Regions from separate parts of the Homo sapiens genome. Here all the other regions are linked to region 1. Evidence: fine-mapped expression QTL. A gene starts in region 1. Each other region holds a variant in brackets. All regions are shown on one strand. Distances are between the middles of the regions. Region 1 holds the start of RHOXF1-AS1 (RHOXF1 antisense RNA 1). Region 2 overlaps RHOXF1-AS1 (RHOXF1 antisense RNA 1). Region 3 has its middle 2.5 kb from the start of NKAP. Region 4 overlaps TMEM255A (transmembrane protein 255A). Region 5 has its middle 33 kb from the start of SLC25A5-AS1. Region 6 overlaps AKAP14 (A-kinase anchoring protein 14). Region 7 overlaps RHOXF1-AS1 (RHOXF1 antisense RNA 1).

The links.
Region 2: its variant is fine-mapped to the expression of RHOXF1-AS1 in thyroid (GTEx, PIP above 0.99). The same link has a PIP of 0.9 or more in tibial nerve and transverse colon.
Region 3: its variant is fine-mapped to the expression of RHOXF1-AS1 in whole blood (TOPMed, PIP above 0.99). The same link has a PIP of 0.9 or more in amygdala, anterior cingulate cortex, caudate, cerebellar hemisphere, cerebellum and hippocampus.
Region 4: its variant is fine-mapped to the expression of RHOXF1-AS1 in cerebellar hemisphere (GTEx, PIP above 0.99). The same link has a PIP of 0.9 or more in nucleus accumbens.
Region 5: its variant is fine-mapped to the expression of RHOXF1-AS1 in cerebellar hemisphere (GTEx, PIP 0.96).
Region 6: its variant is fine-mapped to the expression of RHOXF1-AS1 in hypothalamus (GTEx, PIP 0.97). The same link has a PIP of 0.9 or more in whole blood.
Region 7: its variant is fine-mapped to the expression of RHOXF1-AS1 in whole blood (TOPMed, PIP above 0.99).

The regions. Positions count from the first base shown.
Region 1 is chrX:120,034,547-120,038,749 of GRCh38, forward strand. RHOXF1-AS1 (RHOXF1 antisense RNA 1) reads left to right here and starts at 1,690. Exons shown (of 5, transcript NR_131238.1): 1 at 1,690-1,986.
Region 2 is chrX:120,139,041-120,143,243 of GRCh38, forward strand. RHOXF1-AS1 (RHOXF1 antisense RNA 1) reads left to right here. Exons shown (of 5, transcript NR_131238.1): 3 at 1-79. Among named protein-coding and RNA genes, the nearest start is that of RHOXF2, 17 kb to the right of the region's middle. The variant C/T (reference allele first, on the strand shown) is at 2,165.
Region 3 is chrX:119,944,120-119,948,322 of GRCh38, forward strand. No RefSeq gene overlaps it. Among named protein-coding and RNA genes, the nearest start is that of NKAP, 2.5 kb to the left of the region's middle. The variant A/G (reference allele first, on the strand shown) is at 2,427.
Region 4 is chrX:120,262,638-120,266,840 of GRCh38, forward strand. All of the region lies in intron 8 of TMEM255A (transmembrane protein 255A), which reads right to left. Among named protein-coding and RNA genes, the nearest start is that of ZBTB33, 14 kb to the left of the region's middle. The variant A/AG (reference allele first, on the strand shown) is at 1,813.
Region 5 is chrX:119,500,366-119,504,568 of GRCh38, forward strand. No RefSeq gene overlaps it. Among named protein-coding and RNA genes, the nearest start is that of SLC25A5-AS1, 33 kb to the left of the region's middle. RefSeq lists an enhancer at 566-645 and a silencer at 3,101-3,395. The variant C/A (reference allele first, on the strand shown) is at 2,086.
Region 6 is chrX:119,907,061-119,911,203 of GRCh38, forward strand. All of the region lies in intron 4 of AKAP14 (A-kinase anchoring protein 14), which reads left to right. Among named protein-coding and RNA genes, the nearest start is that of AKAP14, 13 kb to the left of the region's middle. The variant G/A (reference allele first, on the strand shown) is at 2,155.
Region 7 is chrX:120,100,412-120,104,614 of GRCh38, forward strand. All of the region lies in intron 1 of RHOXF1-AS1 (RHOXF1 antisense RNA 1), which reads left to right. Among named protein-coding and RNA genes, the nearest start is that of RHOXF1, 13 kb to the right of the region's middle. The variant G/A (reference allele first, on the strand shown) is at 2,051.

The DNA.
Region 1 (4,203 bases):
GCAGAACATTGAGCTAAAGAGGATTGTTCCTAGGCCTTGAAATCTAATGGAATTAGCTATGCTAATTATTTATTTATTTACTTTTTTGAGATGAAATCTCATTCTGTCACGCAGGCTGGAGTGCAGTGGTACAATCTCAGCTCACTGCAACCTCCACCTGCCAGGTTCAAGCAATTCTCCTGCCTCAGCTTCCTGAGTAGCTGGGATGACAGGAACTCACCACAATGCCCCTCTAATTTTTGTATTTTAGTAGAGACGAGGAGGGGGGTTTCACCATGTTACCCAGGCTGGTCTCGAACTCCTGACCTCAAGTGATCCACTCACCTCAGCATCACAAAGTGCTGGGATTATAGGCGTGAGCCACCACACCTGGCCCTGCCATGCTAAATTTTGAACTTACTTGGGACAAGAAACCACTTTATGCCTCCCATATTCATTCTTTTGGAATGGTAATGTCTTGTAAAAGGAAAATAAATCTCAGGACTCCAAAATCATTAAGCCAAAGGGAAAAGTCAAGCTGGGAACTGCATCAGGCAAACCTACCTCCCATTTTATTCTTAAATAAGATAGCTACAAACAAAAAAAAAAGCTACATACATGTCTCACAATTTGTCCACTGGGACATTCCTTTTGAGCCCCAAGATGTTTACCTTAAAATGGTTCTGTTGAATTTTACCCTGACAATGTAAATTGATAGCTTATCTTCACAGGTTCTAGACAAAGAACAGAACTCAAAGTCATCCTTCTGTTCATCTGAGACAGATGCATATCTGATTGCTTTCCTAATGTAAAAATGCAGATTCACTGAGCTGACAAAGGCATAAGTAACTATTCCTCTACCCTTCTCTCACATGTAAACTGTGTATTCAGTGAAAGGTTTATCAAACACTCAAAATAATGCAACCATTTGTCTGTTATCTACCCACACCTTTAATTTTTTTTCCTTTTCCCCCAATATCTGCCCTTTTGCCTTTAAATACTGAAGTCCACAAAATCTTCTTTGGAAAAAGGCATAGACCTGCCTTCCAGATGCATGTTCTTAACCTTGGTAAAATAAAATTTCCAAGTTAATTGAGACCTAGCTCAGATACTTTTTGGTTTACAAATTGGTAACCACCAAGGGATTCTGAGTGGAGGTGCCCCTGACCTTTGACAAATCTTCTATTACTGCTTGGTACCAGCTTGAGATATCTTTATTGCTCAAATCAATAGGCAGATTTGCTGAGGCCTGGGAACTTCCCCCCTCCAGACAATCCCTTGTAGCAGGACGAGCTGCAGACAAAATCTTTCAGACACTGAGTTGTAGAAGGAAGGGCTTTATTCAGCTGGGAGCATCGGCAAGCTACTGTCTTAAAATCCGAGCTCCTCGAGTGCACAGTTTCTGTCCTTTTTAAGGGCTCATAACACTAAAGATTTCACATGAAAGGGTCGTGATTGATTGAGCAATCTAGGGGGTATGTGACAGGGGCTTCATGCACCGGTAGTCAGAGTGAAACAGAACAGAGCAGGGAGTTTCACAGCGTTCTTCCATACAATGTCTGGAATCTATGGATAACATCGGTTGCTAAGTCATGAGTTGATTTTTAACTACTAGGTTTAGGCCAGGCAGGCCCAGGCCTGGTTTCAGTTCTGGTTTTGGGTCTGGTGCCTGGCTGCCTGCCCTTGGTTTCACTTCCTTGTTTTTTTCTTAAAACAGGTACTGAGTATAAAACAATATAAAACAATATGAGAGGGTCCGTCTCTTCCCTCACCCTGATCTCCCCAAATTTGGTCGATATCTAAGGTTTTTTTTTGCTGTACAACTCCTTTTCTGGAGTTTTACTCACTTTCAACAAGGAAGGTGAGTTTTCCTGCTTCCATGATGATGGAGGGCAGGCAACTCCTTTCTGGAGTTTCAGCTCAATTCCAACAGGGAAGGCGAGTTGGAGTTTTTTTCCTGCTTATAGGCTGGTAGAGAGCAGTGTTGAGCCTGGACTCCATTCCTAGGTAAGTAGCTGAATTGGGGTTTTATCTTGAAAATTCTCCTTAATGACCTAAAGTTAAGATTAACAACCAGCAGCTCTTAATTTCTCCTTACCATTAGAGTGCTCAGGAATTGTATACATAGTATGATCATTTGTTTGTTTTGCCAAACTGTTTTTTCATTTATTTGTTTGTTTTGTTGTTTTGGTCTTTTTCCCATTGGATTTGACTAACTCTACCCAACTATATCAAATGTGAAGGAAAGTTACAAATGGTGAGGAACAACGCCTCTGCATTGGGTAAATTCCTGCAGCTGGGGGGGAAAAGGGAAAAGGATAAACAGCCATCAACAGGAAAAAAGAAAGATTTTGACTACCTGAGGGGCTTTATTTACATAACAAGGCCACCTTTTGCTAGCCAAGCCAAACTGTGCTCCACACTGCAGTTCTGTAGCTAAGGTTTTGCCCTTTTTTCCACCACAACAGCCTGGGTTTGGTTCCTAAATCAAGTTCTTTCTGGTTTGATATTTGTGTTATTTTTGAAATATCAGCAATTTGTTCCAGCTAAAATAGGGTAGTGAGATTTAGAAGAATTTTTTAAGAGCTTAGTGGCTAAAAGTCAGTTTAATTAAAAGCTAATATCCACGATGTGTGTGTGTGTGTGTATATTTAAAAGGCCTTTATGGTTTTTTGTTTTGTTTTGTTTGTTTGAGAAGGAGTTTCACTCTTGTTGCCCAGGCTGGAGTGCAATGGTGCGATCTTGGCTCACTGCAACCTCTACCTCCCGGGTTCAAGCAATTCTCCTGCCTCGGCCTCCCAAATAGCTGGGATTACAGGCATACGACACCACACCCAGTTAATTTTGTATTTTTAGTAGAGATGGGATTTCTCCATGTTGGTCAGGCTGGTCTCAAACTCCCGACAACCTCAGGTAATCTGCCTTCCTCAGCCTCCCAAAATGCTGGGATTACAGGCGTAAGCCACCGTGCCTGGCCTGTTTTTTTTTTCTCTCCTAGTACCTTGTTTTTTGAGAAAAAGGTTTTTTCCTTCTCAGTCAGTCAAATGAATTCTGTTTTCTCCATTTACTTCTGCCTATCTCTCCTTTCTCTTGTTCCCCTCTGCTGCATGAGGGACCCAAAATAGTTTCTAACAGCCTGTAATTCCTTAAATAAAACAGAGAAGGCACTAGAGTCCTTTTTGAGGAGAAACATCTGTTTTTCCTTATGGAACCCCAAGAGTCTAAACAGACAAGTTCCTCTCAGATCTTAAACTGCTTGCTTTTGTACTGTGTTACCTGATTTTTGGACTAAGTTATTACAACAGAGGCTACTCTTCGGGTGTTTAAGATAAGAAAAGGTATACTTTAGACACTTAGAGGAAAGTCTTTGTAACAAAGTGCAGTGCAAATGCATCACATGGTCTAGAATCATGATAATTCTATCTTTTGGAGATCCAGGATTCAGCGTGGGCTCTGCCCAGAGCTGAGATCCAGTTAAAAGCTAGAGACTAGGCTGGGCACAGTGGCTCATGCCTGTAATCCCAGCACTTTGGGAGGCCAAGGTGGGCAGATCACGAGGTCAGGAGTTCAAGACCAACCTGGCCAACATGGTAAAACCCCATCTCTACTAAAAATACAAAAATTAGCGGGGCATGGTGGCAAGTGCCTGTAATCCCAGACACTTGGGAGGCTGAGGGCATGCCCAGCCGATGCTACACTTTTAAACAGCCAGATGTCATGATTACTCACTATCATTAGAACAAAACTAGAGGGGAAATCTGCCCCTATGATCTAATCGCCTCTCACCAGGCCCCATCTCCAACACTGGGGACTACAATTTGATATGCCTTTGCAATATCAATTGCTGCATACCAAGTTCTCTCTGTTTTGGGCCTCTGTAATAGTCACAATGTCAGGTACTGCTGGTGCCAAAGGTGGTATTACGCATTGAGCTGCCTAAAATCAGTGGTAAGTCTCCAAGAAACCAAGGTCTTGTGCACAGGCCAGATGGGGCTATTGAATGGAGAAACAGTCTCATGAAACATTTTGGCTTCCTTAAGCTCAGCAATGATGGCAATTATTCTTTTTCTCCCCTAGGCAGCTGACATTGTTTTTTGGGAAACAACAGTACTAGGTGTTGGTCATCAGATGGGTCCATGGTCTTCTATATTTCTCACTAAGATGGCCATAACTATTGCAATTCCTGTCAGGGCTTGGAGGCAAAGGCAAGTGGGGCTGCACATG
Region 2 (4,203 bases), 100 kb after region 1:
ATCTCGGCTCACTGCAACCTCCACCTCCCGGTTTTATGCGATTCTCCTGCCTCAGCCTCCCGAGTAGCTGGGACTACAGGTGCGTGCCACCATGCCTGGCTAATTTTTTGTATTTTTAGTAGAGATGGGGTTTCACTGTGTTAGCCAGGATGGTCTCAGTCTCCTGACCTCATGATCTACCTGCCTTGGCCTCCCAAAGTGTTGGGATTACAGGCATGAGCCACCGTGCCCGGCCTGGTGTTTTATTTTTATATGATATAGTGAAGCTAAATACATCTGGTTCTGTTAATGAACATGAAAAATTATACAATGAGGAAGCATATTCCTCTAGAAATTGTGAAACTGTGTGTTCATAAATTTGCTAATCTGCTACAGAACACTAGTATATGACAGTGCTATAGACTCAATGTTTGTGTCCCCGCCAAATTCATACGTTGAAATCCTAACCCCTAATGTGATTGTATTAGAAAGTGGGGCCTTTGGTAGGTTATTAGGTCATGAGGGTAGAGTCTTCACAAATGGGATTAGTGTCCTTAAGCATTCTCTGCCTGTTTCTATTATGTAAATACATGTAAAGCCCTGATAAATTTCCCCAAATGTCATTGTTACAAACCTATTTATATCTTTACTACAGAGCATATCGTGGGAAAATTTTTTATTTGAAATCACACGGTTAAGAGTTCAGAATTGGTTAGAAGAGTAGGGAATGGCTTACGCTAATATATCTACAATGACGTATTTGTGTTCCTGTAGTGTTAAGGATAGGAAGACAATGGATATTCAACAGCAGCAACAATAATATCAACAATTAATCTAAAGAAACTTACAAGAAAATATGACTAAATATTTACCCACTTTTGGCATTTGAGTTTTGCTTTCAATTATTTAAACTGGATTTCCTGAAGTATTTAATTTGAAATGTGAATATCTGCTCTCTTCAAGTGATACCTTTTTCCTTTGCTGTTTTTAATGTGTTTTCTGTAGCTGTAATAAACCATAAACAGGTGTCTGACAGCTTTTCTGAGTCCAGAAGCACAGAATGCTCTATGAAAGACCATGATCCATTCTCTCTCCTATCAACATGTTTTTGTTTGTTCTGTACCCCATTTGTTTTGTCTAGGAGCAAACACACAGAGATCTTAAGCCTATTAAAGTTGTGTTTTGGCTTAGTTTCGGTACACATATCCTTTTAATACAGCAGTTATTAAAAATTATTTTAGGCAATTAGAAAGGGTAAAGAGTTCTTGGTGGAATTTTCCATTAATAAAAAGCAGCCCCCAAACCATTTCTTTTCTAACAGAAAGCAGCCTGAAACTTCAAGCTGCAAGCATAGCTATGCAAGCTAGCTTTCATATGTAAATGCCATCAGCTGTACCTGGAAGCCAGGTACATTCAATATGGCGATTCTCGCTCCCTTTTCTTTGTGGCCACGTGTGCGGGTGTCATGGCACTAGCCAGGTAAAGTCACATGTGCAGGTGTCATGGTGACAGTCAGATAGAAGCCATAATTGCATAATAAAAGATTAGGGTTGGAGGGCCAGTCTTTTCATGGACTGTGTAAATGGAGCACCTGGTCAAACCAATCCCCTGGGCTCTATGTAAATCAATCACCGCCTCCTCAAGCCTTTGTACAAAATTGATCACGTTCTGCACCTAACCCAGAAACCCTCTCTCAGGTGACCCGCTTTCTCAGCATGAGGAAGCTTATTCTATCTCTCTTCCTTTTTGTCTGTTAAACTTTCTGCTCCTTAACCCACTCCACGTGTGTGTCCATGTTGTTAATCATCGGCGCGAGACAACTAACTACAGGTATTGCCCCAGAGGAAGTGGTTTCACTTTGAATGGTTTGGCACTATTGTCAAATATCATACTTGTTATAAGTCTTTGCAGATTTTCTATTTATTCTTGAGTCAGTTTTGGTAGTTTGTGTGTTTGTAGGAATTGTTTTTCAATGTATTAGGGCATCTAATTTGTTGAAATACAATGTTCATAGTATTTTCTTATAATCCTTTTTATTTCTGTCAAATCAGTGGTAACATCCCCTCTTCTTTTTCTAAAAAAATAATTTCAGCTTTTATTTTTGATTCAGGGGATACATGTGCAGGTTTGTTACATGAGTATATTGCATGATGTTGAGGTTTGAGATCTGAATGGTCCTGTCATC[C/T]GGATGGGATACTAGTGAACATAGTACCCAACAGTTAGTTTTTCAACCCTTGCCCCCTTCCCTACCTCCCCCCATCAGTCCCTAGTGCCTATTATTGCCATCTTTATGTCCATGAGTACCCAATGTTTAGCTACCACTATAAGTGAGTACATGCAGTATTTGGTGTTCTGTTCCTATGTTAATTAACTTAGGATAATGGCCTCCAGCTGCATCCTTGTTGCTGCAAAGGACATGATTTCATTCTTTTTATGTCTGCACGGTATGCCACGGTGTATGTGTGCCACATTTTCTTTATCCAGTCCACCATTGATAGGCACCTAGGTTGATTCCATGTCTTCACTACAGTGAATATTGCTGTGATGAATATATGAGTGAATGTGTCTTTTTGGTAGAACAGTTTATTTTCTTTTGGATGTATGCCAGTAATGGGATTGCTGGGTCAAATGATAATTCTGTTTTAAGTTCTTTGAGAATTCTCCAAATTGCTCTCCAAAGTGGCTGAACTAATTGACATTTCCACCAACAGTGTGTAAGTGTCCTTTCTTCTGCAGCCTCACCAGCATCTGTTGTTTTTTGATTTATTAATAATAGCTATTCTGATGGGTGTGAGATGGTATCTCATTGTGGTTTTGATTTGCATTTCTCTGATGATTAGTGATATTGAACATTTTTTCAAATGTTTGTTGGCCACTTGTATGTCTCCTTTTGAAAAGTGTCTGTTCATGTGTTTTTTGCCTGCTTTTTAATGGAGTTACTTGTTTTTTATTTCTTGAATTGTTTCCTTATAGATTCTGGATAGTAGGCCTTTGTTGGATGCATAGTTTGTGAATATTTTCTCCCATTCTGTGGGTTGTCTATTTACTCTGTTTATAGCTTCTTTTGCTATGCAAAAGTGCTTTAGTTTACTTGGGTCCCAATTGTCAATTTTTGTTTTTGTTGCAATTGCTTTTGAGGACTTACTCACAAACTCTTTCTTGAGGCTGATGTCCAGAATGGTGTTTCCTAGATTTTCTAGGGTTCTTATAGTTTGATATCTTACATTTAAATCTTTAACCCATCTTCAGTTAATTTTTGTATATGATAAAATGTTTGTATATGATAACCCATCTTCAGATAATTTTTGTATATGATATGTAGGGGCCCAGTTTCATTCTTCTGCATATAGCTAGTTAGCTATCTCAGCACCATTTACTGAATAGGGAGTCCTTTCCCCATTGCTTATTTTTGTCAAGTTTGTAAGAGATCAAATGGCCATAGGTGTGCAGCTTTATTTCTGGGCTCTCTATTCTTTTCCATTGGTCTATGTGTCTGGTTTTTTTTTTTTTTTTTTTTTTTTTTTACCAGTATTATCCCCTCTTTCATTTCTTATTTTAGTTTTTGATATTCCCTCTTTTGTTAGTCTGGCTAAAAGTTTGTCAACTTTGTTGATCTTTCAGAGAACCACATTTTGGATCTGCTGATAGTTTATATTGCTTTCCTATTCTCTATTTTGTTTGTCTCCATTCTTTATTATTTCCTTCCTTCTGCTAGCTTTGGTCTAGTTTCCTCTCCTTTGCTAGTTTCTAAATGTGTAAGTTCGATTATTGATTTTGCACATTTCTTCTTTTTTAATGTAGGTGTTTTTAGGTATAGATTTTCCTCTGAGCATTGTTTTTGCTGCATTTCATAGGTTTTGGGAGTTTGTGTCTTCATTTTAATGCATCTCTAAGTATTTTCTAGTTTCCCTGGTGATATCTTCTTCAATCCATTTGTTGTTTAACAGCATATTATTTATTTCCGCATATTTGTGAATTTCCCAGTTTCCCTTCTGCTATTGGTTTCTAATTTCATTTCATGATTGTGAAAAGTAAAGTAGAGGTTCCTCTTCAAAGACTTTCCTCCCCATCTAATTAGGAAGAAATAGTAACTTCTCTTAGAAGCAAAATTTATTCAAAGACCTGGGCTAACATTCTTAAATATCTGTGAGCTGTAATAAAGAAATCAATGTACTTTATGTTCTTAGCTTCCACAATTTAGCCTAAATATTTGCCCTGGCATGC
Region 3 (4,203 bases), 90 kb before region 1:
GAGGGTTTTTCGCGACTGGGGATTAGCTATGGTGTCTAAGCCCCATATTGCCGTGTTAGCTTAGAGGGCGCAAATTTTGTTAATGACTCGCGCCTGATAAACTTCAATTAAGTTTCCCGCCTAGAGAAAAACTGCATACTTATCCCCTAGCCACCGTCTCCACCAATATGCCCCAGCAAAAGGAGGTTTTTTTTTTTTGAGACTGGAACTCACTCTGCTCACTCTGTCGCCCAGGATGGAGTACAGTGGCAAGATCTCAGCTCCCTGCAAACCTCCGCCTCCCCGGGCTCAAGCTATCCTCCCACCTCAGCCTCCTGAATAGCTGGGATTACAGGCGCATGCGACACCAAGCCTGGGTAGTTTTTTTTTTGAGGGGGGTCGGGGGAAACAGGGTTTCACCTTGTTGCCCAGGTGGTCTTGAACTCCTGGGCTCAAGCGATCCGCCAGCCTCGGCCTCCCAAAGTGCTAGGATTATAGGTGTGAGCCACTGCGTCTGGCTTGTATTTTTTTCCCCAAAAAGTGTCATTTTATTTTTTATTTTTTTATTTTTGAGACAAGGGCTCCCTCTGTCATCCAGGCTGGAGTGCAGTGGCTATCCTGGCTCACTGCAACCTCCGCCTCCCAGGTTCAAGTGATTCTCCTGCCTCAGCCTCCTGAGTAGCTGGGATTACAGACATGTGCCATCATGCACAGCTAATTTTTTATTATTTTTTAAATTTGTACAAATCTATGGGATACATGTGAAATTTTGTTACATGTATATAATGTGTAGTGATGACGTCAGGGTATTTAAGGTGTCCATTATCTGAGCACAATACATTTTTGTTAAGTGTACTCTCGGCCTGGTATGGTGGCTCACGTCTGTAATCCCAGCACTTTGGGAGGCAGAGGCGGGTGGATCACTTGAGGTCAGGAGTTTGAGACCAGCCTGGCCAACATGGCGAAACCCTGTCTCCACTAAAAATACAAAAATTAGCTGGGCCTGGTGGCACGTGCCTGTAATCTCAGCTACTAGGGTGGCTGAGGCACGAGAATCGCTTGAACCCGGGAGGCTGAGGTTGCAGTGAGCCGAGAGTGAGATTGCACCACTGCACTCCAGCCTGGGCAACAGAGTGAGACTGTGTTTCCAAAAAAAAATAGTGTACTCTCACTCTACCATGCTGTCAATATCAAACATTGAATTTGGGGCTGGGCATGGTGACTTACACCTGTAACTCCAGAAATTTGGGAGGCCGAGGCGGGCCAATCACTTGAGCCCAGGAGTTGGAGACCAGCCTGGGAAACATAGGGAGACCCTGTCTCTACAAAAAATTTAAAAATTTGGCGAGTGTGGTGGTGCATGCCAGCTACTCAGGAGACTGAGGTGGGAGGAACACTTACTTGAGCCCGGAAATCGAAGTTGCAGTGAGCCGTGATTGATCCACTGCACTCCATGGGCGACAGAGTGAGACACTGTCTTAAAACAACAACAAAAACCATTGAATTTATTTCTTCTATCTTACTGTATGTTTGTACCCTTTAACCTATTTCTCTTCATCCTTCTGCTTCCTCCCACATACCCTACCCAGCCTCTATTATCTATCCAGCAAAAGGAATTTGTAATCCCCTCTTTGTCCAGCTCCTTAAACTAGTCTCATTGTATGCCAGCCCAGCAATATAGAGTTAAGGATCAGTATTCCTATTCTTTTTTTTTTTTTTTTTTTTTTTTTACATGGAGTCTCGCTCTGTAAGCAGGCTGGAGTGCAGTGGCGTGATCTTGGCTCACTGCAATCTCTGCCTCTAGGGTTCAAGCTATTTTCCTGCCTCAGCCTCCTGAGTAGCTGGGATTACAGGGGCGTGCCACCATGCCCAGCTAATTTTTGTAGTTTTAGTAGAGACAGAGTTTCACCATGTTGGCCAGGATGGTCTTGATCTCTTGACCTTGTGATCCGCCCGCCTCAGCCTCTCAAAGTGCTGGGATTACAGGCGTGAGCCACCACGCCCAGCATTTCTATTCATTTTATACTGTTTTTCTTTTCTTTTTTCTTTTGTGAAACAGTGTCTGGCTCCCTCACCCAGACTGGAGTGCAGTGGTGTGATCTTGGCTCACTGCAACCTCCACCTCCTGAGTTCAAGGGATCCTCCCACCTCAGCCTCCTGAGTAGCTGGCATGTGCCATGGTTCGCTAATTTTTAAATTTTTTGTAGACATGGGGTTTTGCCATGTTGCCCAAGCTGGTCTTGAACTCATGGACTCAAGTGATCCTCACACCTCGGCATCTCAATGTGCTGTCATTACAGGCTTGAACCACTGCACCTAGGCCTCTACTGTTTTTAAATCAAAGGGCATTCCAACATTAATTCTACTGATTTCGACTTTTTTTTTTGAGACAGAGTCTTGCTCTGTTGCCCAGGCTGGAGTGCAGTGGCAGGATCTTGGCTCACTGC[A/G]ACCTCTGCCTCCTGGGTTCAAGCAGTCCTCATGCCTCAGCCTCCCAAGTAGCTGGGATTACAGGTGCCCACCACCATGCCCAGGTAATTTTTGTATTTTTGGTAGAGACTGGGTTTTACCCTGTAAGCCAGGCTGGTCTCAAACTCCTGACCTCCAATGATCTGCCGGCCTCCGCTTCCTAAAGTACTGGGATCACAGGCGTGAGCCTCCATGCACAGCCCTCAATTTGGATTTTTGAAGGTACATAGGTTTGCTGAAGAAATTCCAAGTCCAGCCTGCCAGTAGCATGATGGCCTCTGGGATTTTCCTAAGAAGTAATTTATCAGATCATGAAAATTAATGCCAATTGATTATCAGAAATCTCCTTTTTTTGGAATTTAAGGGAAAGACGTATGAAATAATGTTAAATGGAAAGAGTGGACCACACTATTGGATATCTTCTATGTATAACTAATTTGTCATGGGGCCAGGTCCAAAAACTTAATCGAGTAAGAGAAATTCTGTGATTTGGGATGGAGATTGGGGAGAATTTCTAATAAGAAAGTTTTCAATGGAAAACCTACTGCCTAACTTTTGCGACAACAGGCAGTACACCTTCACATCAGTTGCCTATAAAACCAACTCTGCAACAGTGATTGGTCTACCTGCCCCATGGCTGGTGGACATGTACTTTAGTTGGAAAGAGAAAACCCCTACTCCTGCACATCTGAATGGCATGGTGCTCTTCTTGCCAGGTATCCTGGGAGCAGCCTGTGTTTCATGAGTTGGCAGTGAGGGGGAGCTAGAGCACACAGGGAGGTGCAGACAGCCAGTGGGATCAGGCTTGCAGAGTTTGGGTCCTGCCACTGCACTCCAGCCTGGGCAACCTCTGCCTCCCAGGTTCAAGTGATTCTCCTGCCTCAGCCTCCCAAGTAGCTGGGACTTCAGGCATGCGCCACCATGCCCAGCTAATTTTTGTATTTTTAGTAGAGACAGGATTTCACTGTGTTGGCCAGGCTGGTCTTGAACTCCTGACCTCATGATCCGCCTGCCTCACCCTCCCAAAGTGCTGGGATTACAGGCATGAGCCACCGCGCCTGGCCTATTCTTCTTTAAATTTTTTTTTTTTGAGATGGGGGTCTCACTCTGTCACCCAGGCTAAAGTGCAGTGGCACTATCTTGGCTCACTGCAACCTCCGCCTCCTGGGTTCAAGCGATCTTCCCACCTCAGCCTCCCGAGTAGCGGGGACAACAGGCGCATACCACCATGCCTGGCTAAGTTTTGACATTTTTGGTAGAGACAAGGTTTCGCCATGTTGCCCAGGTGGGTCTGGAACCCCTGAGCTCAAGTGATCCGCCCACCTCGGCCTCCCAAAGTGCTGGGATCACAGGCGTGAGCCACCTCACCTGACCTGATCCATTCTCTACAGGAATTAAACCATTTGTGTGTTATGGGATATGGAGGTATTCAGCTTCCATTCACTACTCCTCTTCAAAGTCTGAGACTCTGCAGCTGTCTGGGCAGGTGCATGGCTAACACCCAGCGGACTGAGGCAGGGATCTGGGTTGTGGAAATGGAATTTAAGGAGTGGGTGTTAGGGGGACTCTTGTAGTTTGTGTCCATTTGAATTTGAGGATGCTTTCCAATTATGCCAACAATTGTTTTAGAGACTGCGAGATTAAAACAATGTTTTTAATCACTAACCTCTTTTGAAAGAATTTGCAGGATCAAAACCCGAACTACATAATTTCTAAAAAGAATTTTCTTTTAGAATACTTCTTAGTCAATACAGACCT
Region 4 (4,203 bases), 230 kb after region 1:
CCTCCTCCTCTCCCTCCCTCCTGTTCTGTTGCTTTCCTCAACTAAGAACTCTCTCCTCTTAACCAGAGAGGGGAACAAAGACCCACCAGGGCAAAGAATCTCTGTGCCTGGGCATATGGCACTCACTGCCTCTCTAAATCCCACTACAGAGATGACATGAGAGGCAGCAGGCCAGTTTTAGGTGTTCCCAGCCACAGAAGGGAGAGGCAAGTTTCCTGAAGTGAAGCTAAAGGCAGTTCTGTCCTGAGAGGCATTAAAAGGCTTCTGTGGGCAGCAGCTGCTGTGGGTGGCAGTTGTACACTTTGATAATAAAAGGGGGTGGTACAACGGCCCTTGGGTTTTCACTTCTTAGTTTTGTGTTTGAGAAGTATGGGGGGAGGGGGTCATGATTCTCACTTCCCTTTGAGGATGCTGGGAGTCTTAAGGATAAAGCTGAAGGGTTCCTGGCAGAGCTAGGGAGCTAACTGGCTGCAGTCCACACACCCTTGGGGTTTAGCGGGGGAAAAGGCCCATAGTACCAGTGCATAGTTTCCTAGCAACAGGCAGGCACCTTGGGAAAGATCTGGCTTTGTCGCAGCCAGGGAGTTGGCCTGGTGTATTCTGGTTCCTGCCTGAGAGTGTGACTTTAATAATGCTGTGGGCAGCTCAGGAGAACAGAACTTTGAATCCTTGTGCACCACCAAGCACGAAGAGCATCTAAATAGCCTACTGCTGGGCCTAGTCAGCTCCAGCTTCCTGAGCGGCTTCTTAGAGGCTGGGGTGGCCAACAGGCTGATGGTGCTTGAAGAGGAGCACCACCCTTTCAGGGACACAGATGGCTTTCCTCTTCCACCTTAGCCTGCCTCCTGCCTGCCTGATGGCTGACCCACACCCTTCAAGATCAATGCGCATTTCCGTCAGGGCATGCTTCTCTCCAGGAGCCTTGTGGGACAGTGACTTCACAAAGAGCCCAGGAACTGGCTGGTGATAATTACTAGTTAAAGACACTGTGTCCCAAGGGTAAAATCCCAGCATCTGTCGGTATTGTGCATTCCCTCTCTGTTCTGCCCCTGGAAGCAAAGGCTAGGGAGATGGAGAGAAGAGTGGGTAAAAGAAAGAGGAAAAAAAAAAGGATGAGTCAGGAACAAGGGAAAGGAGGGGACGAAAGGAAAGACTTGACAGCGGGGTGGCGGGCGGGTGGCGGGGGGAAGAAAAAGTTGAGTGATAGCAACAACAGCCTTCTAAGGCTCTCAGCAACCTGTGCCATAAACTGTACCCTCCTAGGATCAAAGCAATCCTTTTAATAAATGGGCCCAATTTATAATGAGTAACTTTTAGTGGCTAGGGTGAAACCTAGTGTACCCTCGTGATTAAATAAAGAGGAAAAATAGAGGCACTTTTGAATTGCATAGGTTGAGACTTTCGTTTTAAGCTTAAACTTGGCTGGTCACCAAATGGATAGGAAAGGGACCATTCCATGGTTAGAGTAAAGTAGGGGTACTGGCCCAGTATGCCAGACTGGGAAATATTGCTGGGAACCTTGAGGGGTTTATAAATAGCTGGGTTTAATTTCCCAGCAGAAGTGAAAACTGATGCTTTGTACCCTACAGATTTTGGACTACTTGGCTAAAGCTGAAGGGGTGGTGGGGAAATAGTGCAAAGGACAAGAGAAATGAGTGTTGGACAGATGAGCGAGGAGGCAAAGGTAGTCTCAGCTTATATCCTTCCTGCTTTGGAGTATGAGGAGTTCCTGAGAAGCAAGGACACCCTGGAGCCCAGTGTTTGAAAGAATCCAGTTTCTCTAAGCTCAGCACTCAAAACTTCCTCAGGGCC[A/AG]GCTGATCAGACCCAAATCCTTGCTCATGTCTGACCACAAGAAGTGTTTCCCAAGCTTCCTCACTGGACAGCTACCCAATAAGGGTATGACTTTGAGGGGTTAAAACAAAACATTATAAGTCTTTTTTCCTCATCCTCCTATTAGCCTCAGGGTCAAAAGGAAGTTGAAATCACCAAACCCAAAGTCACAGAAATAGTCCTACTTGGAAATAACCAAAATGGGAAGTCATTCAGAAGAAAGTCTAGAAAGGTCCATTTTCTGGCTGTAACTTAGGTCATTTTACAATCAGAAGAGCATGAGGGAGCTCTGGCCTTTTGGGGGTGGGTCTGTGCTTCAGGTGGTTTTATTGTCAGATCTGGAGTGCATTTGCTGACTCCTTTTTATTTATCTGGGAATATAAGCAGACGTTTCCTGCCCTCTTGACTTTCCTTTTTTTTTTTTTTTTATACAGCGCTTCTCTCTTGTTGCCCAGGCTGGAGTGCAATGGCGTGATCTCGGCTCACCACAACCTCCACCTCCTGGGTTCAAGTGATTCTCCTGCCTCAGCCTCCTGAGTAGCTGTGATTACAGGCATGCACCACCATGCCTAGCTAATTTTGTATTTTTAGTAGAGATGGGGTTTCTCCGTGTTGGTCAGGCTGGTCTCGAACTCCCGACCTCAGGTGATCGCCCGCCTTGGCCTCCCAAAATGCTGGGATTACAGGCGTGAGCCACCGCGCCTGGCTGACTTTCTTGTGTAAAGAATGGTATTTTCGCCTATGAAACTATAAGGGAATGAAACTTGGTGAGCAAAAGAAAGCTAAACTAAAATACTAAAATGAAACCATTTAAGTTCTAGAGAGAAATCACTTAAAATCTTACCCCCTCAAGACTTAGGCTATACAATTATAAAGTCTTCAAACAGGAAATACTAAAGACATCTTGAGCCTAGGGAAAGAAGTGGGAGACATATAAAAAGTGTCCAAGCAGCCCCTGAATTCCCCTCTGAGGAATGCATGAAGGAAGGGAATCCTTTTTCAGTGGGGATCAAGAGTAAAGAGACCCTTTCTGAGGACCATGAGTCCAGTAGAAAGTATAAATATCCAGTAGAAAGTATAAATATCCCAAAATTAACTGGGGAAAGAGCTGTGCTCCGCTTAGATTCACAACTTCAAAAATCCCCCAACCCAATCTCTGGAATCAGTCAGCCCTAGATATAAATCCTTACTCTTTCACTTACCACCTCTGTGACTTTGGTGAAGTCACTTAATCTCTCCATGATTCAGTCATCTTATCTTAAAAATGGCAATTGCAAGAGTACTTCTCTTAAAGAGGTAAATGATTGAATGATGATATATGTAAAGCACTTAGCACAATGCTTAGTACATAGTAAGTACTCAGTGAATAGTAGCTGTTATTAAAAAGTAAGGGTGGGCCAGGCACGGTGGCTCATGCCTGTAATCCCAGCACTTTGGGAGGCCGAGGCGGGTGAATCACGAGGTCAGGAGTTTGAGACCAGCCTGGCCAACATGGTGAAACCCTGTCTCTACAAAAGATACAAAAAAAAAAAAAAAAATAGCCGGGCATGGTGGCACGCACCTGTAATCCCAGCTACTCGGGAGGCTGAGGCAGGAGAATCGCTTGACCCCAGGAGGTGGAGGTTGCAGTGAGCCAAGATTGTGCCATTGCACTCCAGCCTGAGCGACAGGGCAAGACTCTGTCTCAAAAAAAAAAAAAAAGGAGAGGCTTCTAACAATCCCCAAAGTCTCTGCTACAAGCCCATAGTATAGGTTTGGACTAGGTAGCTAAATCTGGATCCCTTTTCTGGGTTAGGTATGCTGTTTCCATAGCATTCTGGGTAATGTTTTCTTTACTTTTTTGTCCCCACTACTGTCCCCTGACCCCCCACCCCCAAGTCCCTAGACTAACGCAGGGACTGTCTCATTTAATTTCTATTTCCACAGCTCCTGGCTCAATGCGTGGCACATGGAACACAGAGTAAACATTGATTGAACTGAAACCAACAATCCAAGTCACCGTTGGCATTCTCAATCTTGCTTTCATTTCTGGGGTAGGATTTGAATGAGGAATGATGGCTCCATACCCAAAAGAGAGGTTTCCTATCTTATAATTTGTGGTAACCATCACCAGATGTATTATTGTCCCTACTTAAAGGGTTCATTATAAAGTGCAAATTCCTGAAATCAATGTAATTTACTTTGATATAAAAGTAGAGGAGGCCTCTTGGGCTAGACCCATGTGTGGCTCCTCTATTTAAGGATGACTTTTTATTATAGGGACCCCAAGAGAATGATGACCTTCCTTGTTTTAGCTTCAACATCCCTGCATTCTCTTGAAGAATTCCTTGTTGCCTCGGTCACTATTGAAATTATCTATGCCCTTCTTGAACA
Region 5 (4,203 bases), 530 kb before region 1:
CAGGACAAAAAACGAAAAGGGTGTAGGGGAAGGGGTTGACCTTGGAGGAAGTACCAGGATAGAGAAAAGATGGGCATTTTGCAGGCTGAGTAGAAGGATGCATGGTGGTCATCTTCTTAGCTCTGGTTATGTTTGAGCGACACATCATAGTACAGATACAAAGATGAATGAGGCACGGTGGGCTCTTCTCAAGAAGTCTGGTGGTGTCACATCCTGGAGAACTGGTTGCGGCAGTGTCCTGGAGATGTCAGAGGCGGCCACAGAAGGGCACGGGCTTCAATGTCACCTTGCAGGACTGGAGAGGGGTTGGTGCAAGCTATATCTTATAGGGGGCTGTCTCTCCAGCTGGCCTAGAGGATGGGGGTTAAGAAGAGACTTGAGTTTTGTAAGAGAAAAAGCCTCCCTCAGACTCTGAAGACGATCAGGATCCGCCCACCCAGAGGAAGAAATGCGTGGCTCTGTCAACTTTTCAGGTCATAGGTCTTGAGTGGGAGAATGGGAGCCCTTTTTCAACCCCACCCCCAAATTTCCTCTTGCCAGTTTCTTTCTCCCTCCTGGAAGGAAGCCTGGACACCACATTCTGGGAGATCATAACTCTCCCCCTGAGAGCTATTTGCTGGCTCTCCCCACAGAAAGACCTTGGGAGGGAAGCACAGTCACCTGTCATGGCAGGAGCTGGCAAGCTGAGACCTCTCCCTTCCACTGGCCCTGCCTTCTTCAGGGCCAGGCTTCCTCATGGGCTGTCCCTTCAGAACCCAGCCCACACCTTTTCAGGAAGCCACTCCCCACAAATCCCCTCTGGTCCTATGGACATGCGCATTACCCTTCTCTGGGCCTTCCCCTGACTTCCTCATTGGTGTCAATTTTTTTTTTTTTTTTTGAGACGGAGTGTTGCTCTTGTTGCCCAGCCTGGAGTGCAGTGGCGCGATCTCGGCTCACTGCAACCTCCACTTCCCAGGTTCAAGCAATTCTCCTGCCTCAGCCTCCTGAGTAGCTGGGATTACAGGCATGTGCCACAATGCCCAGCTAATTTTGTATTTTTAGTAGAGATGGGGTTTCACCATGTTGGTCAGACTGGTCTCAAACTCCTGACCTCAGGTATTCCGCCCGCTTTGGCCTCCCAAAGTGCTGGGATTACAGGCATGAGCCACCGCGCCCAGCCTCAAAACTTTCTTCTCAGTTCACATTCCTTCCTTTCTGCCAATGCCAGTAGGGTGAATCAGATAACCTAGAGTGGTGAGCTAGCTAATATGGCAGTGCTGTCCCCAGAAACTACTGGAATAAGGGGGAACATCAGGCACCTACAACCTGGAGAGAAAGACTTGTCAGGCAGGTCTGCTTCCTGCTGCCTTGGGCACTTCCTTCGGGACTGGTTTGTTGAGAGGGTTGAGAATGGATTGGAGGGGGGGGTGGGGATAGTGGGGGAACTAGAGGCAGGAAAGCTCATCAGGAGGCCTTGCTGCACTTCCACATAGATGGGGGCCTGACCTGAAGTAGTGACCGTGCATGGAGAGCGAGGTTGTTGAAGTGAAAACGTGAAGGCTAGAACAGGCCTGACTTGATGACTAGGCCTATGGGAGTGTGAGACGAGGGTGTGCCCAGATTTCCTGCTTGGCCAGGTAGGTGAGTGGCAGTGCCACTTATTGAGAAAGGGATCATCAGGCAGGACAAACTGTGAGTTTGAGGGGGAAGGAAAGGATGACAAGTTGTGTTGGGTAGATTCAATTTGAGTTGCCTATAGGATGTGTAAGTGGGGCTGTCCAGGAGGCACTTGGATGGGAGTGTGTGTGTTTCGAGCACAGAAGCAAAGTCTAGTCTGGAAACAAGAGTATTAATTTTCTCTCTCTCACTGTTTCTCTCTCCTTCACACACACACACACGTGTGCGCGCGCACACACACACACACGTGCAAACACCAGAACTTTCAAAGCTAGGTGCACTCACAGGGTCATTAAGCCCAGGACATGTTGACAAGGGTGTGGAGGTGTCATCCTCGGGGACATGCAGGGAGGGTTCCTGGACAGTGATTTTTACATCGCCTCCTTAATTGTCCATAACCATAACCATGATCCATAGCCATAAGGA[C/A]AATAGGAATTGTGGTCCCCCAGAGATTTTTTTCCTACTGAAACTCCATAGTCACACCTCTTTGCAGACTTTATGGCAGGCCTTCCCTTTTTTCCAAACCCCTGTGAATAGTGTCAGACAGCATCTGCGGGAGGATGTGTGTGAATGCTGGGATGCAGGGGGCATGGCAGGGAGTGGAGCACTTGTAATTCTGTTGATGTTGGAGCCCTCCCCTTTCAGAGTGCATTGAGTCCTTAGTGTGTGCCCCCTCGCCCCGATCAATTCCCAATCCCTGTGTTGCAGAGAGGGCAGCACCACCTTCTCAGCCGCACAGGATATTCTCAGGCTGATGCCAAGAGCAAATCACTCCCAGCCAGCACACTTCTGCCAGCCTTGGTAGGCACAGCGTGTAGCAGTGCGCATGTGGGTGGGGACAGAGGTGACTTTTCTCATAGACTGGGAGAAAAAAAAAGGCATCTGAACTTCCTGGTTACAGAACATCCGGCTAGTAGAAACCTTTGTGTGTTTGTACGTGTCGGGCAGGGGGGGATTAGTGAGGTTCCCCTCCCCTCTAGTGTTAGCAATAATGAAGGACACTCTTTGTACAAGACGTCAAGATGAGAGCTTCCACACAGGACTCCACACTGTGCTTCTGTTTCACCAGGAAGAAATCTTGAATGTCAGCCAGGCTTGTACTCATCAATTCATTCAGCCAGTCTCTGAGGGCTGGTCCTTCTACTGAGTGCTGGCTAGGGTGGGGCTGAGGACTGTGCCCCTGGAGAGCTGCCAGCCTAGGTGCAAACACAGAACCTTCATTCATGCAGTGACATCACAGCAGCCCATCACAACACTGCCCCAACTGCATCAGAGCAGTTGCACCTGATAGGTTTCCCAGGGGTTACCTGAGGAGCAAAGCCAAGTGCGTGTGGCCCAAAGTAGACAGCATATAGGGCCTGCACGCTGAGGACTGCCCCAAATGCTGGCCCAGCTTTTTCCACCAGGGAGGGTCAGATTCCAAAGCCGACAGCCACTCAGCACGAGGCCCAGACCCAAATTCCACTGCCAGCCACTTCTACTGCTGAAAAGGAAATAGGGCCGAAAATGTAGACTTCAAGGGCAAACACTGGATCACCCTTGGGAGTAGCTTCCAGAGCTCTGAGTAACATCCTGGAGGCAGAAGAGAAATGTTTGCCCTGCCCCCCAGCCCACAGTCTCCAGCATCACCAGCCTTTCTGGAAAGCCTTCCGAAGTCAATTTCAGCCCAGCCAGGAGCAGGGCCAAGTTGACAGAGGGCTGAGCCAGAGCTCCCCTGCACTCACACCTTGATCTTTCTCTTCCTCTTAGACTTGAGTGCTTGCCAGGTGTGCATTCCAGAGTCAATGCAAGTGTCCCTGGCTCTCTTCCACCCCTTCCCAGGCAAAAAGAGGCCACCCACCCATGGAAAAGCCACTGTTGTCAATCTGTCGCCAGAACTCTCGCTCAAGGTGGCAGTGAGGCTTTGGTGCCAGCTAGGGTTTGCTTTGGAATCCAGGAGCTCCCATCAAAGGCGGTGGGCTATGGGGTCCTGAATGAATGGCAAAGGGGCATGGGAGTAGGGATGAGGGTCATTCAGGACTTGGAAATATAGTTGGCCCCGGGTATGTGCTGGAGCTGGCTCCCTCTGGCCCATGAGAGCCAGATGCTATATTTTCAGAAGTTTTGTGAGTCAGTCATTAAGCATAGCACTTATTTTAAAATATATAAAATTACAATTAAATAAATTATATTAAAAACTAAGGTAATCAATGTCCCAAAACTCATCATCTCCTAATCATTTTACTTTTTTTTTTTTTTTTTGAGATGGAGTTTCGCTCTTGTTGCCAGGCTGAAGTGCAATGGCACGATCTCAGCTCACCGCAACCTCTGCCTCCCGGGTTCAAGCGATTCTCCTGCCTTAGCTTTCCAAGTAGCTGGGATTACAGGCATGTGCCACCACGCCCGGCTAATTTTTTGTAGTTTTAGTAGAGACGGGGTTTCTCCATGTTGGTCTGGCTGATCTCGAACTCCCAACCTCAGGTGATCCACCCGCCTCGGCCTCCCAAAGTGCTGAGATTACAGGCGTGAGCCACCGCACCCGGCCTTCATTTTACTATTACCTGT
Region 6 (4,143 bases), 130 kb before region 1:
TTTGCACAAATTGCCCAACCTCTCTCTGATTGAGCAGCAAAACAAAGTTATGATCATATGTCTGTCTGATTTTTTTTTTTTTTTTGTGGGACAGGGCATTGCTCTGTCACCCAGGGCTGCAGTGCAGTGGCACCATCTTGGCTCACTGCAACCTCTGCCTCCTGGGTTCAAGGGATTCTCCTGCCTCAGGCTCCCGAGTAGATGGGACTACAGGTGCATGCTACCATGCCTGGCTAATTTTTGCATTTTTAGTAGAGATGGGGTTTCACCATGTTGGCCAGTCTGGTCTCAAACTCCTGACCTCAAGTGATCTGCCCACCTCAGCCTCCCAAAGTGCTGGGATTACAAGCGTGAGCCACTGTGCCTGGCCTGATACATTCTTTTTAAAAAATATTTATTTATTTATTTATTTATTGAGACAGAGTCTTGCTCTGTCGCCCAAGCTGGAGTGCAGTGGCGCAATCTCGGCTCACTGCAGCCTCAAACTCCTGGGCTCAAGTGATCCTCCTGCCTCAGCCTCCTGAGTAGCTAGGACTATGGGTACACAGCACCATGGCCGAGTAAATTTTTTATTTTTTTGTAGAGATGAGGTCTCACTTTGTTGCTCAGGCTGGTCTTGAACTCCTGGCCTCAAGTGGTCCTCCTGCCTCGGCCTCCTAAAGTGCTGGGATTACTGCCAGCCACTGGCAGTGGCCACTGCACCCGGTGTGAGCCACTGCACCCAGTCAGTTCTATCTGATATATTCTTTCCACCACAGTAGGAAAAGTATTTTTTTTTCTTATTTGTTTTTTCTCATCAGCTTCTACTGACCCAGGAAAAGTACTTTTGGATGACAAAAATAATGCAGACTTTTATTATCATTTAAAAATACAAATTCAAATGATTTTAAGGTACTACAATGTGAATACGAATAATTAAACCTGGTATCAGAAGGCTGGTACAGGCTGGGCGCGGTGGCTCACGCCTGTAATCCCAGCACTTTGGGAGGGCGAGGCGGGCGGATCACTTGAGGTCTGGAGTTTGAGAACAGCCTGGTCAACATGGTGAAACCCTGTCTCTACAAAAATACAAAAAAATTAACTGGGTGTGGTAGTGTGTGCCTGTAATCCCAGCTGCTTGGGAGGCTGAGGCAGGAGAATCACTTGAACCTGGGAGGCGGAGGTTGCAGTGAGCTGAGATCGCACCACTGCACTCCAGCCTGGGCAACAGAGTGAGACTCTGTCAAAAAAAAAAAAAAAAAAGAAGGATGGTATAGGATGGTATAGTTGTGGGGAGGGAACACTTACACATTGCCAATGGCAAAGTTGGTTCATTCTCTTCAGGAACACAGTCTGGCAACAGGAATATACAAATGGGTTCCTTATAAAAGAAAAATCAGAGAATGCCCATCACCTCAGACAGTTAAAATTACTTTTATAATAAAAAAAAGACATCACTATAAAAAATGCCCAGTGAGCAAAAAGATACAAATTAGAAAATGAAATTACCCAAAATACCCGTTTCTATTACCCCAAAGGTCACTTAACCATGGATAACAGTTTTGTGCATATACTTTTTCATTGTTTTTTGCCTTGTGCATATACTTCTATGTGTCTGTTGATTGTGAGTGTCCAGTAGTATGTAGTTGGCTAAGCCATCCATGATCAAGTAGTACAGTGAGATACTGTTTCCTGGAAGTGAGTATATGAAGCAGTATCATGTAAAAATCACAAAACACACTCACTGCTGATACATAAAAGTCTGCTGCCTGCACACGGATAAAAATGGGAGGAGATTCGCCTGATGAAAATAGTTAAATTTAATGTCATGTGTAAGGCTGCCTTCATTCACAAAAGGGAGGAAAAATCCACTAAGAGCCAAGCTGAGAAGAAGAAACTCTTAGAACTGAGGCTTCTAGTGGGGTGGAGAAAGCACTGAGCGGGCTGCTCAGGAGTCCTGGGTACCAGTCCCAGTTTATTGTGTTAGACTGTCCCTACCTACTTCTAGGCCCTGGTATCCTCATCTGCAAAGTGAAGGGCTGCATTAGATTATCTCTAGTGACCTATTCAATGTTATAAAGTCTGTGATTGTGTGACAGATTAAACATTAGGGCTAGAAAAGTATATTGAGTAATATAGAACAGTTGAAAAAAAAGGCATGCTCTGGCTGGGTGC[G/A]GTGGCTCATGCCTGTAATCCCAACACTTTGGAAGGCCGAGGCAGGTGGATCACCTGTGGCCAGGAGTTTGAGACCAGCCTGGCCAACATGGTGAAACTCCGTCTCTACTATATGTGCTGCCGAAGCGAGCACAGAAACTCCATCTCTACTAAAAATACAAAAATTAGCCAAATGTGGTGGTGCACACCTGTAATGCCAGCTACTCGGGAGGCTGAGGCAGAAGAATCACTTGAACTCGGGAGGCGGAGGTTGCAGTGAGCCGAGAAAACGCCACTGTACTCAAGCCTGGGTGACGGAGCAAGACTTCATCTCAAAAACATAAAAAAAAAAAAAAAGAGGCATGCTCCAATGAGCCATAAGGGGTTGACTGTTGGGCCCCTTCATTAAAAGGAGTAATGATTTTGGGGCCAGGCGTGGTGGCTCGTGCCTATAATCCCAGCACTTTGGGAGGCCGAGGCATGTGGATTACCTGAGGTCAGGAGTTCAAGACCAGCCTGGATCTCTACTAAAAATACAAAAATTAGCTGGGCGTGGTGGTGAGCACCTGTAATCCCAGCTACTCAGGAGGCTGAGGAAGGAGAATCGCTTGAACCCAGGAGGCGGAGGTTGCAGTGTGCCGAGATCACGTCACTGCACTCCAGCCTGGAAGACAGAGAGGGACTCCGTCTCAAAAAAAAAAAAAGGAAGGAATAATGACTTTGGGAGGCCGAGGCCAGTGGATCACTTGAGCCTAGGAGTTTGAGACCAGCCTGGGCAATATAGGGAGACTGTCATCTCTACAAAAAATATAAAAATTAGCCAGGTGTGGTGGTGCATGCCTGTATGTAGTCTCAGCTACTTGGGAGGCTGAGGCGGGAGGGTCACTTAAGCCCGGGAAGGTTGAGGCTACAATGAGCCATGATCGTGCCACTGCACTCCAGCCTAGGTGACAGAGTAAGACCCTGTCTCAGAAAAAAGGAATAATGATACATGAAAGAATACACAGCTCCTGATCTCAAGGAATCTCGAGTCCAGTGCTCTTCTCTGGACTGAAACAGCCAATTGGGTACAAGTTTGAAATAAGCTGAGGCAAAAGGCCAGCCTACATTTTTTTTAAAGGAGGGCCTGAAATCTTTTTGATGTCTCCTGTACTCCCTCTCCACATTACTGGGACTTGTTAGACTCTCCCAATTCCTTCCTTCTGTGAACCTTCATCTTAATTCAGGCTCTTCTTTGATTCAGAAGCTTCTGGTGCCCTGAGAGCCAGCCCAAGGAAGTTCAGTTGAATTGAATTTGTTGAATACCTGTGAAATCTAAGGCCCTGTGCCAGGAATCAGGGATGCATTTTGACTTCTGTGGGCCCTAGGCACTCTTCCCTTTGTATCCCCCTTTCTCCTTCAAAAGATGAAAAAATTCAAGACAGCACTGGTATAAAGATGAATATAATCATGACCCTAAAATTCATATATTCTTCTTCTTTTTTTTGAGGCAGAGTTTTGCTTTTGTTGCCCAGGCTGGTGTGCAATGGCGCAATCTCGTCTCACCACAATCTCCGCCTCCCGGGTTCAAACGATTCTCCTGCCTCAGCCTCCCAAGTAGCTGGGATTACAGGCATGCACCACCACGCTGGGCTAATTTTGTATTTTTAGTAGAGACTGGATTACTCCACGTTGGTCAGGCTGGTCTCGAACTCCCGACCTCAGGTGATCCGCCCTCCTCGGCCTCCCAAAGTGCTGGGATTACAGGCGTGAGCCACTGTGCCCGGCCTTTTTCTTCTAATTTTAAAAGAAATGAACACATTTTTTTTGTGGGCCCTAGGTATTGAGCTTACTATGCCTTACAGATAAGTCAGCCCTGTTAGAAATGTTTTAATATTGGCCGGGCATGGTGGCTCACGCCTGTAATCCCAACAGTTTGGGAGGCCAAGGTGGGCAGATCACGTGAGGTCAGGAGTTCAAGATCAGCCTGACCAACATGGTGAAACCCTGTCTCTACTAAAAATACAAAAA
Region 7 (4,203 bases), 66 kb after region 1:
TTGTTTGTATAATGCTATTCTATACAAGGTATGTAGACCAGGAAGTGACCAGCCTGATGTGTGCTATAACCCATCCTTTTTCCTACTGCCCATAAAAACAGGCGAACTTCTAGGCTTCCCAGTCTATGCTTCCCAAGAAAAGAGAAGCATAGCTATAGGCGACTGGAAAGATGACAAGTGGCCCCCTGAAAGAATCATACAGTACTATGGGCCTACCACTTAGGCACAAGATGGCTCATGGGGATACCCAACCCCCATTTATACTATCAACCGAATCATACGGTTATAAGCTGTCTGAGAAGTAATCACTAATAAAACTGGCAGAGCTTTAACTGTTTTAGCCCAGCAAAAACCCAGATGAGAAATGCTATCTATCAAAATAGACTAGTCCTAGACTACTTGCTAGCAGCTGAAGGAGGAGTCTGTGGAAAATTTTACCTAACCAATTGCTGTTTGCACATAAATGATCAAGGGCAAGTAGTTGAAGACAAAAAGATATGACAAAACTGGCACATGTGCCCATGCAAGTATGGCATGGACTTAATCCTGGAGCCATGTTTGGAAAATGGTTTCTAGGGCTAAGAGCATTTAAAACTCTTATAATAAAAATTATAATAGCAATAAGAACCTGCTTACTACTCCCTTGTTTGCTACCTGTACTCCTACAAGTAATAAAAAGCTTCACCGCTACCTTAGTTCACCAAAATGCTTCAGCACAGGTGTACTATATAAATCACTATTGATCTGTCTTGCAAGAAGACATGGGTAGTGAGGATGAAAGTGAGAACTCCCACTAATGAGTGAGGTTCTCAAAGGGGGGAATAAGGGAGGAGACCACCCCTCATATTGTCATATGCCCAATTTCTGCCTCAAAGAAAAAGTAGGAGTTAAAAGACAGAAGTGAAATCAGTAGTCAGACAGCCCAGCACTGCATTCCAGGCCTGGTAGTTAAAGATCGACCCCTGACCTAATTGGTTATGTTGTCTATAGATTCCAGACATTGTATGGAAAAACATTGTGAAAATCCCTGTCCTGTTCTGTTCTGTTCTGATTACTGGTGCATGCAGCCCCCAGTCACATATCCCCTGCTTGCTCAATCGAACACGACCCTCTCATGTGGACCCCCTTAGAGTTGTAAGCCCTTAAAAGGGACAGGAATTGCTCACTCAGGGAGTTCGGTTTTTGAGACATGAGTCTGCCGACACTGCTGGCCAAATAAAGCTCCTTCCGTCTTTAACCTGGTGCCTGAGGAGTTTTGTCTGTGGATCGTCCTGCTACATTTCATGTCATTAGGACCTTCTGAGACTGTGTCATGGGTGCATCCTTAACTTTGGTAAAATAAACTTTCTAAATTGATTGGAACCTGTCTCAGATACTTTTGGTTCACAAGTTGGTAACCAGGAATGGCTTCTGAGTGGAGGTTCCCCTAACCTTTGACAAATCTCCTATTGGTGCTTGGTACCAGTTTGAGCTATCTTTATTGTTCAAACCAATAGGACAATTTGTGAAGTCCTGGGAGCTCCCCCTTCAGAGAATCCATGATCTCCTCAAATTTGGCTGAGATCTAAGGTTTATTTTGTTGTACAACTCCTTTTCTGGAGTTTTACACAAGGAAGGTGAATTGTCCTGCTTCATGTTGATGGAGAGCAGGCAACTCCTTTTTGGAGTGTGAGCTCACTTCCAACAGGGAAGGTGAGTTGAAGTTGTTTCCTGCTTCTAGGATGGTAGAGAGCCATCTTCAGACTGGGCTCCATTCCTAGGTAAGTAACTGAATTGGGATTTTGTCTTGGAAATTCTCCTTAATGACTAAAGTTAAAATTAACAACCAGCTGCTCTTAATTTCTACTTACCTTTAGAGTGCTCAGTAATTGTATAAGTTGTGCAATTTTTTGTTTGTTTTGCTTAACTATTTTTGTTTGTTTCTATTTTTGTTCTTCTTTTGGTCTTTTTTCCATTGGATTTGATAAACTCTATCAGACTTAGTCAAATCTGAAGGAAATTTCCAAATTATGGGGAACAATGCCACTGAATTAGCTAAATTCCCACAGCT[G/A]GGGAAAAAAAGGAAAAAGAAAAAATGACCAGCAAAGGGGAAAAAGAGGAAAGATTTTAACTACTGAGGGGTTTTACTTACATAACAAGGCCACTTTTTGCTAGCCAAGCCAAACTGAAAGAGCAACAGCTGTTGTCCCATGGTGCAGTTCAGTAGCTATGGTTCTGCCCTTTTTTCCCACCACAACACCCTGGGTTTGGTTCCTAAATCAAGTCCTTTCAGGTTTCATATTTATGTTACTGTTGAAGTATGAGCAATTTGTCTCAGTTAAAATATGGCAATGAGATTTAAAAGGATTTTTCTTTGAGATGGAGTCTTGCTCTGTTGCCCAGGCTGGAGTACAGTGGCACATTCTCGGCTTACTGCAACCTGCCTGCTGGGTTCATGCAATTCTCCTGCCTTAGCCTCCTGAGTAGCTGGGATTACAGGCATGTGCCACCACACCAGGCTAATTTTTGTATTTTTAGTAGAGACAGGGTTTCACCATGTTGGCCAGGCTGGTCTCAAACTCCTGACCTCAAGTGACCCACCCACCTTGGCCTCCCAGTGCTGGGATTACAGGTGTGAGGCACCACACCCGGCTTAAAAGGATTTTTTTTTTTGGAAGAGCTCAATGGCTATGAATCTGCTTAATTAAAAAGCTAATATTGAAGATTTTGGGTGTGTGTGTGTGTGTGTGTGTGTGTGTGTGTATGTGTGTGTGTGTGTCCACTTAAAAGGCCTTTATGGTTTTTTTTCCTAGAACTTCATTTTTTTTGTAGAAAAAGTTTTGTTTTTCTCAGTTGACTGAATTCTGTTTTCTCCATTTTTCTTCCTGTCTCTCCTTCCTTTTGCCCCTCTCTGCTGCATGAGGGACCTAAAATGGTTTTTAACAGCCTGAGATTCCTTAAAGAAAACAGAGAAGGTGCCAGACTCCATTTTGGGGAGAAACCTCTGTTTTTCCGTATGGAACCTTAAGAGTATAAACAGACAAGTTCTTCTCAAATCTTAAATAGCTTGCTTTTGTATTGTTACCTGATTTTGTTTTGACTAAAGTAGTTATTACAACAGTGGCTATTCTTGGGTGTTTAAAATCAGAAAGAGTATAGTTTAGACACTAAGAGAAATGTCTTCACAAAGAAAGTGCATTATAAAAGCATCACATGTTCTAGGCTCATGAAAATTTCTCTTTTGGAGATTCAGAATTCAGTGTGGGCTCTGCCTCAGACCTCAGAGATCCAGTTAAATAGTAAGAGACTAAATTTAAAACTACCTATATTGATAAAATTGGTCCCCTTATACAATCCTATGATAGATTTTTACAATTTTATGTTTGATTTGGCATCTGTTTTTAATCTCCCTCTAGAATACCAGACTCTTTTTCTCTTTACTTTGGGCAGTATGGCCATTTTCACAATATTGATTCTTCCTATCCATGAGCATGGAATGTTTTTTTTCCATTTGTTTGTGTCTTCTCTTATTTCCTTGAACAGTGGTTTGTAGTTCTCGTTGAAGAGGTCCTTCACATCCCTTGTTAGCTGTATTCCTAGGTATTTTGTTGGGAAAACTGGCTAGCCATATGCAGAAAACTGAAACTGCTTCCTTACACTTTATACAAAAATTAACTCAAGATGGATCAAAGACTTAAATGTAAGACTGAAAACCATAAAAACCCTAGAAGAAAACCTAGGAAATACCATTCAGGACATAGGCATGGGCAAAGACTTCATGTCTAAAACACCAAAAGTAATGGCAACAAAAGCCAAAATTGACAAATGGGATCTAATTAAACTAAAGAGCTTCTGCACAGCAAAAGAAACTATCATCAGAGTGAACAGGCAACCTACAGAACGGGAGAAAATTTTTGCAATCTACCCATCTGACCAAGGGCTAATATCCAGAATCTACAAGGAACTTAAATAAATTTACAAGAAAAAAAAAACAACCCCATCAAAAAGTGGTTGAAGGATATGAGCAGACACTTCTCAAAAGAAGACATTTATGCAGCCAACAAACATATGACAAAAAGCTCATCATCACTTGCCATTAGAGAAATGCAAATCAAAGCCACAATGAGATAACTTCTCATGCCAGTTAGAATGGCGATCATTAAAAAGTCAGGAAACAACAGATGCTGGAGAGGATGTGGAGAAATAGGAATGCTTTTACACTGT